Linked DNA regions of Homo sapiens: region 1 is linked to region 2. Evidence: fine-mapped expression QTL. Tissue or cell type: whole blood. Region 2 holds a variant in brackets; the other region holds the start of a gene. All regions are shown on one strand. Distances are from middle to middle.

The links. PIP is the estimated chance that this variant, and not a neighbour inherited with it, causes the effect.
Region 1: PTPN22 starts here. The variant in region 2 is the best candidate, but not a certain one, in a credible set for the expression of PTPN22 in whole blood (INTERVAL, PIP 0.78).

Annotation. Positions count from the first base shown.
Region 1 is chr1:113,869,245-113,873,641 of GRCh38, reverse strand. It overlaps PTPN22 (protein tyrosine phosphatase non-receptor type 22), which reads left to right and starts at 1,930. Exons shown (of 21, transcript NM_015967.8): 1 at 1,930-2,105. The coding sequence starts at 2,019. The region is part of intron 3 of AP4B1-AS1 (AP4B1 antisense RNA 1); the gene reads right to left. RefSeq lists enhancers at 1,925-2,184, 2,743-2,792.
Region 2 is chr1:113,891,175-113,895,571 of GRCh38, reverse strand. AP4B1 (adaptor related protein complex 4 subunit beta 1) reads left to right here. Exons shown (of 10, transcript NM_001253852.3): 10 at 80-1,378. The coding sequence ends at 507. The region is part of intron 3 of AP4B1-AS1 (AP4B1 antisense RNA 1); the gene reads right to left. Among named protein-coding and RNA genes, the nearest start is that of BCL2L15, 5.8 kb to the right of the region's middle. The variant C/T (reference allele first, on the strand shown) is at 1,712.

The DNA.
Region 1 (4,397 bases), 22 kb after region 2:
GTTCTGAGTTGCTTTATTAACTGGCTAAGGATGTTTTTGTTTTGTTTTGTTTTGTTTTTACCATATTCTGGCTTTCTCAGTGTTGTATGCCAATCTCCTAAGACAATGTTTAGAATTTAGTGGGTACTCAATAAATTTGTTGAACAACTTAATGGATTTTTAAATGTTTATTTCTAATTTTAAAAACGGTATGATAATTTTAGAAAGCAAACTTTATCATAATTCTAAAATTATGATAATTTTAGAAAGCAAACTTACACAATTGATTCTTTTTTGCTTCTTTTAGTCTTTAACTATGTACACACTTTTACATGGTTTTAGTTATTACAAACTTGAAATTTTGTATTTTTATAAATCAAAGATTTCCCATATTTTATGTTTTAAAATAGCCAAAGTAAACATCACGTTACTTAGAGCAGCAAGAAATTCTCTCTTAATTCTAGATGGGGATAATTTAAGAAATATACTATTCCTAACAAATATTGCTGAAGAATGAGGGTTTATTTTAATTTATGTATACTGGGATTGAGTTTCTTAATTTGAAATATTGTCTTTAAGTTGTCTATAACCAAGATATCTCGATGATCTTTCTTTTTTTTTTGCAGTACTTAGTAAAGAGCATGCAGTATCTTTAATGTTCAGATTAAGCAGTGTTCAGAATCATGATATCCTGAAGGAAGTTTGAATAATGTTGCAAAACAGAAAGGATTGCTAATATCTTAAATAGAGGAAGTCCTAACAACACATTTCCCAGTTTTCTTCAGGATCAAGACTAATTTTGTTAACATTTGTTGAACTTCTGCCTTCAATAAAGATGATATACTGATTTTTGGATGTTCTCACACTGAATTAGGCACTTGGGTAGACTTGTACCCATTGAGAGGTTATGCAAGCTCAAATGTGGAAAGTTTTTCTAGAAGAGCCTGCCTTTCAGGGCCAAAATGCCACAGGCACAGCATAACTTCCTGAAACAAATTTATTTCCTAAGACATTGGTTGCAGAGTAGAAATGTGTTCTTTAGAAACAGTTCTTCAGGCTTTCTGCCCTAAAAGTTACAATGTTGTCAGCAAGGTGGTTGATTTTACTTTCTTTTTGTTCCATCACAGTTTACCAGCATTACATATGCAGGGTATTGAGCTAACTGTCTGGTCAGGTGCTCCTTGTGGGGGCCACTTGCTCTAGATCCTATATAGACCAACACTCTTAGTCTTTATATCCAGAACCCAAGTGAAGCTTCAAAGGTTACTGGGAGGGTTGAAGAGGTGCTGAAATCAACACTTCCCTTAATGGAGGTCAGCACTTCCCCAGTCCTGGGAGAGACACAGACTGTCAGAAGCATCTGACTTTGCTTCATTCAAAAGGGAGTTTGAGGTATATATAGCAGACTTAAAAGTTATGAATAAAAATACCTTCTGTGATGAACAGAAGTTTCTCATTGATCACACTGACAAGAAACCTTTCGATGAACAGTCCGGGTAGAAGACATGTCACTCACTCTAAACAGTGTCTGTCTTCTTTCCTGGGCCTAACTGAACTTTGCAGAGTTCATTTGGGACATAAGGAAACAGAAGGTGTCAACTTGGCCCTTGTGCTCACTGGGAAAATGGGGAGAGACAGAACTCATTCAGGAGACCTGTAATTCTGTTCTTTCTCTGGGAGGCAAGAAGAAAGGTGAGTTTTGCATATGGGTGATGGAATGGAATAATCTCAGTTAAGCAGACCACACTTTACGTTCTAGTTAGCCTCTTGTTTGTTAAAAATTTGAATTGTAACCAGGTTCCTTTGCTGAGAAGGAAGGCACTAGGGCCCTGGAGTGAGATGATGGCTGTGTTATGTGACCACAGAAGGTGGTTACGTACTAATTTCCTCTAGGGCTTGTGATGAAGTCAGTAAACCACAGCCTTCAGCATGCTCTGCTCAGGCGGCAGCAGTGGCTTTTTGGAGGTGTCTCGGCCATGACACACATTTGACATGCCCTCCCTCAACCTACTTATAGACTATTTTTCTTGCTCTGCAGCATGGACCAAAGAGAAATTCTGCAGAAGTTCCTGGATGAGGCCCAAAGCAAGAAAATTACTAAAGAGGAGTTTGCCAATGAATTTCTGGTGAGTCCTGTATGTGACCCTCTCAGGGTAGTTACATACACTATTTAACTGACTATGGGGGTCCAATTTTCCGAGACCAAATTGCTCTTGGGATAAAGTAAATATGAGACCTTGGCGGGGAAGACAGAAAAAAAAAAGTTTGACTTCTCTGAGTGGTTTGCATGTATTTCAGGTATTCTCTCAAAATTACTGGTTTTAATATTTTGTTTGCTAGTTCTTTGGAGTTTGGTTAGGAATCCTACAGAAGACATATACAACTCCAGATGTAAAAACACTAATATTAATTGAACATCCAGATTTCCCCAGGTATCTAAGTTGTGGTTTATGCTTTATATTACTAATTTTAATTAATATTAAGAAGAAAGAGACCAATGTTAACTTTTCATGCAATATTACATTTTTAGCCTCCCCTCTGGGATTCTATTTGGTTGACAAAGGTTTTTGAAGAGCACCAAAACTACCCACTGCCACAGTTTTTTTTGTTGTTGTTGTTTGTTTTTTTAAGATTCAGAATCTTACTCTGTCACCCAGGCTGGAGTGCAGCAGTGCAACCACAGCTCACTGTAGCCTTGAACTCCTGGCCTCAAGTGATTCTCTTGCCTCAGCCTCCTGAGTAGCTGGGGCCACAGGTGTGTATCGCCATGCCTGGCTAATTTAAAAAAAAATTGTTTTTTTCTTTTTTGTAGATACGAGCCTTGCTTTTTTGCCCAGGCTTGTCTCGAACTCCTGGCTTCAAGCAATCCTCCCATCTTGCCTCCCAAAGTGCTGGGATTACAGGCATGAACCACTATGTCTGGCCATCATTTTTCTTTTCTTTTTCATATGAAAAATATATTATAACATGTGTTTTTTCAATAACAGGGCTTCCTTAACTTCTTTTGCTTGGAGAAGTGGAATGGCTAGGATGGAGAGTAGAGACAAGTGTAGGTCAAGGAGAGAAACATGAGTACAAGGTAGCTTCAGGTTGGGTGGATTAGATTACCCAGAAGAACAGTGAATCTCCTTTGAGAGAACTGTGATTATTGATGCAATGGCAGCTGGGTAGGCCTCATTCACCCTACAAGCTGAGATATCAGATAACATAGGGTGTCTAATAGTACCTATCATGTATTTTAGAATGCTTACAGCTGGCGTTTCAGAGATATAAGAATTTTAAACCTTAGCTCTTCAGTTGTGAAGAAATGGGTGGAAAGAGGGGAACTGAAGTACAAACCTGAAATTAAATCATGATTTTTTTTCACCAAATTATGAAGTATTTGACATGTTCTTAAATCTCTCTGTTTTCTAACTTATAAAATGGGGATAATAATACATGTCCTACCTATCCTCACAGGATTGTTGTGATGATTAAATATCAATAACAATCATTAAATGTGGTCATTTATTGAGTACCATTTATTGAGCACTTAGTATGTACCAAGTTCAGTTCTAAGCACTAAAAATACAGCGGTGAACAAAAAGAACCAAAACCTTTGCCTCCTGGAGCTAACACTCTGGTACCGGATAGCAGATGTGAAAACACTCTGAAAGTCTTGAGTAATTAGATATTATTGAGTGATTAGATATTATGATAGGAACTCCGATGTCAGCTCAACATGGATAATCTTGTGGTACTATGAAAAATGTGCTCTCACTGCCACTGGCTGATCAGTCTGAGCCCCTCTGGTAGAGTTACCTGAAAGGAGATAAGTAGGAAGTTCTAGCACATGTGTATACATGTCCCTGCCCCTGGACTATAATTCCTAAGCCAAGGTAACCCAAGGCATAGATGTAAAAAGTGAGCTGAGGGGCAGTGCCGGCCTCTGTTTTATTTTGGTTGTGTTTTTTAAAATAATGTAGACTGGCCGGGGGCAGTGGCTCACACCTGTAAACCCAGCACTTTGGGAGGCCGAGGCGGGTGGATCACCTGAGGTCAGGAGTTTGAGACCATCCTGGCCAACATAATGAAACCCCATTTCTACTAAAAATACAAAAATTAGCTGGGCGTGGTGGCAGGCACCTGTAATCCTAGCTACTCAAGAGGTTGACACAGGAGAATCGCTTAAACTCGGGAGGCAGAGGTTGCAGTGAACTGAGATAGAGCTGTTGCACTCCAGCCTGGACAACAAGAGCGAACTTCTGTCTCAAAAAAAAAAAAATGTAGACTATATCCCTAATATTTTACCTTTTCTCAGCTAAAGTCATTATAATTTCTCACCAAAATATAGCAGCTACCTCCTAACTGGCTTCTCTGCCTCTAGCCTTGCCCCACCTTCAGTCAATTTTCAGTTCAACACCCAAGTGATCTTTTAA
Region 2 (4,397 bases):
TACATTTGGGAATTTGGATAAAAAACTTAGCTCCTACAGATTAAGAACATCTTTCACACAAGTTTTCTGTCTCTTTTAGGACCCTTGATTCCTGAAGAGAACAAGGAGAGGGTACAAGAACTCCCTGATTCTGGAGCCCTCATGCTAGTCCCCAATCGCCAGCTTACTGCTGATTATTTTGAGAAAACTTGGCTTAGCCTTAAAGTTGCTCATCAGCAAGTGTTGCCTTGGCGGGGAGAATTCCATCCTGACACCCTCCAGATGGCTCTTCAAGTAGTGAACATCCAGACCATCGCAATGAGTAGGGCTGGGTCTCGGCCATGGAAAGCATACCTCAGTGCTCAGGATGATACTGGCTGTCTGTTCTTAACAGAACTGCTATTGGAGCCTGGAAACTCAGAAATGCAGATCTCTGTGAAACAAAATGAAGCAAGAACGGAGACGCTGAATAGTTTTATTTCTGTATTAGAAACTGTGATTGGAACAATTGAAGAAATAAAATCATAACAGAGTCTTGTTGCTTGTCTAGAGTAAGATGAATAACTATTACACTTTCTTAGTCTTTCCTATTAGAGCTGCCAGTAAGTCCAGATAATATCAGATACAAAGGAGAGTGGAAAATCTAGAAATCAGGATTCTTAAGTTTTTGGCCAAAGAACATTGATTCATTCCTTTCATTCCTATTGGCAATTGACCCCATTTTTCAGTGATGATGTTGTAGAGGTTAATGTTGGTAAGGAGATGCGTTGAGGATGGGATTTGGATTATTTCCTAATCAATTTTAGGAATTGTGTTAGTAATTAAAGATGGCTGATGTGTGGAAACTGATAGGGGTCATCATTTGTGGGGGTCATCTTTTCTTCCCTGGATTATTATAGTAAATTCCTAACTGTTCTCATATTTCCAATCATGCTTTTAGGCCAGATTCCAAAGTCCTTAATGTCATCTAAAGTACCTCTTTGGTGTCAAGTCTTGCCACTCCCAAAATGACTTCTTTTCTGGCAGAAGCAAACCATTTGCATTGCAGTTCCCTTTATACACCTGCTTCTTTCACCTCTGTGTTAACTTAAACCTGCTTTTATTTATTGCCTGGAACATTTTCTCACCCTCATATCTTCTTGAATTAACACCTCGTCTATCTTTCAGTGTTCAGCTCACTCATAAGCTCCTTCAGGAAGTTTCCTTTAACCCTCACTGCCTTCATTAGGGGCCTCCCTCAAGCTATCAAAGTAGCCAGAGCATACCTCTAGCAGTAGTATTGTAATTGTTTTCTTGTTGCTTGTCCTCAATTTTTATTCTGTTCTTATCTGACCACATTTTGTACATTGAAGCAACTTATGGCAAGAACAAATCTAATAAAATGATGGTAAAATATAAATAGCGAATCCAGAATGGGAAAAATTAAAATACCAGTTAAGACCAGCTAGGTTGGGGATGGGGAAATATACAAATGTTCAGGCTGTATGGGCCTATTAGGTGATATAGTTGAGCCTTGATTTGTCTCTATAGGTGATTTAGCAGTCAGAGTTAAGGGAAACAGTTATAATTGTCATCAGAGAGGAAGAAACATTGATTTCTAAAAGAAATGTACATGTAGTTTCACATAGGTGGTACTAAGATATGTGCAAGATCCTATGAGAAGTTAGTAATGGGTTTCACATGACTTTCTTAACAGTATTCTTCAACGAAAGCAGAGAGCATGACTTTAATA[C/T]AGAGCTTAGACTGGGTGCAGTTGCTCACACCTGTAACCCAGCACTTTCGGAGGCCAGGGAGGGAGGATTGCTTGATGCCAGGAGTTCAAGATCAGCCTGGGCAGCATAGTGAGACCCTGTCTGTAAAAAAATTGACTTAGCCAGGCATGGTGGCACATGCCTGAAATCCCAGCTGCTCAAGAGGCTAAGGCAGGAGGATTGCTTGAGCCCAGGAGTTTGAGGTTACAGAGAGTAGTGATCACACCACTGCACTCCAGCCTGGGTGACAGGAGACCCTGTCAAAAAAAAAGAACATAAAAAAAGTAGGCTAGATATGGTGGCTTACGCCTTTAATCTCAGTACTTTGGGAGACCAAGGTGGGTGGATCACTTGAGGCTAGGAGTTTGAGACCAGCCTGGGCAATGTAGTGAGATCCCCATCTCTACAAAAGTAAAACATTAACCAGGTGTGGCAGCGTGTGCTTGTAGTCCCAGCTACTTGGGAGGCTGAGGTGGGAGCATTGCTTGAGCCTAGGAGGTCAAGGCTGCAATAAGCTATGCTCATGCCACCGAACTCCAGCCTGGGCTACAGAGCAAGACCCTGTCTCCATAATAATAATAATAATAATAACATGGTGCTTAATGAAGGCATTTCTTCAAGGACTTAAGATAACATGATCCAAGTATATAGCCTTTATCATCCAGCTTAATTCAAGGATTTTTACTACCTAGATATAGATAAGCACATACCTTCAGATAATTTTTCACCTATCACTTCTCTCAAATAGCCTTTTTTTTTTTTTTTTTTAAATCTGAGACGGAGTCTTGCTGTGTCACCCAGGCTGTAGTGCAGTGGTGTGATCTCAGCTCACTGCAACTTCTACATTGCAGATTCAAGCCATCCTCCTGCCTCAGCCTCCCAAGTAGCTGGGACTACAGGCATGCACCACCACGCCTGGCTAATTTTTGTATTTTTAGTAGAGATGGGATTTCGTCATGATGGCCAGGCTGGTAACTCCTGACTTCAAGTGTTACCCAGCCTCAACTAAGCTCTTAATAGGAGTAGATAACAGACAGTATTGAATTTTCTGGTAAGAGCCTGGGTTTTGTGAGTTGTTTATTGAATGGACTTCCCCATTGAACAACCTTTTTTTTTTTTTTTTTTTTTTAGGTGGAGTTTTGCTCTTGTTGCCCAGGCTGGAGTGCAATGGCGTGGTTTTGGGTCACTGCAATCTCCACCTCCCGGGTTCAAGCAGTTCTCCTGCCTCAGCCTCCCAAGTAGCTGGGATTACAGGTGCCCGCACCACACCCAGTTAATTTTTTGTATTTTTAATAGAGATGGGTTTTCACCATGTTGGTCAGGCTGGTCTCAAATTCCTGACCTCAGGTGATCCACCTGCCTCGGCCTCCCAAAGTGCTGGGATTACAGGCATGAGCTACCGTGCCTCGCCTGAACAACTTTTAAGAATGATTCTTTCTTTCCTTTTATTTCCATAGTGCCTGCCACATAGTATTACTCAGTAAATCTTTACTGAATGAATGGCTGTATATAATTAGATTCTGATGTGTTTTGGGATTGATGTTTGAAATGGGTTTTATGATATTGTATCAACTATATGGAAAATGATGGAACTTATTCTAGACCAGGATTTCTTAAAAGTGGCAATACTGACATTTGAGGCCAGATAATTCTTTGTTGTGAGGGGCTTTCCTCTGCACTGTAGAATGATTATTAGCAGTATCTCTGGCCTCTGTCTACCCACTGGATGCCAGTAGAACCCTCAGTTGTGACAACTAAAAATGTCTCTAGACATTGTCAAAGGTCCCCTGGGACAGGCGGCAAAATTGCTGTTACTTGAGAACCACTGATTTAGACCATGGATCCTCAGGGACAGGAAAGGGAGGGATTAGAACAGCTTCAGAATTGCATTTTCTGTATTTTTATGGTTCAGTTAAATGGTGAATGTTTAATTAGGTACTAAGAGAAATAAAATTGAAGTGCTGCCAATTCAAAGTGTAGCAAGGGGCCGGGCGTGGTGGCTCACGCTTGCAATCACAGCACTTTGGGAGGCTGAGGCGGGTGGATCACAAGTTGAGGAGTTTGAGACCAGCCGGCCAACATGGTGAAACCCCGTCTCCACTAAAAATACAAAGAATTAGCTGGGTGTAGTGGCGGGTACCTGTAATCCCAGCTACTCGAGAGGCTGAGGCAGGAGAATCGCTTGAACTTGGGAGGCGGAGGCTGCAGTGAGCCGAGATTGTGCCACTGCACTCCAGCCCAGGTGGCGGAGTGAGACTCCATCTCAAAAAAAAAAAAAAAAAAAAAAGGCGTAGCAAGGGAACAGGATGCAGGTGGTAGAAATTGAGTAAACTTATTGACTTTTTAAAATTAAAGACTATAACTGAAATGTTGATCTAAAGAAAATTAGGTATGACTAAGCAACTGAATAAATAATAATACTAAAGTGATCCCAACTATTGGAGCTTTTAGAAGACTATGTTCTACTTGGTTGCTTTTCTATAATGTAAGAGGAATACATAGAATATGAAATTGTTGCTTTTGGAAAATATACTTTTAAGATTATCTCAATGAAGAACTGATTTCTCCTGTAGCCTGGTTTTACTAATTTATAAGCAAAATGACTAAAGCTCAGGTATACTATGAAGTTAATTCTTTAATATTTCCCCTGCTAGGAACTCTGTATAG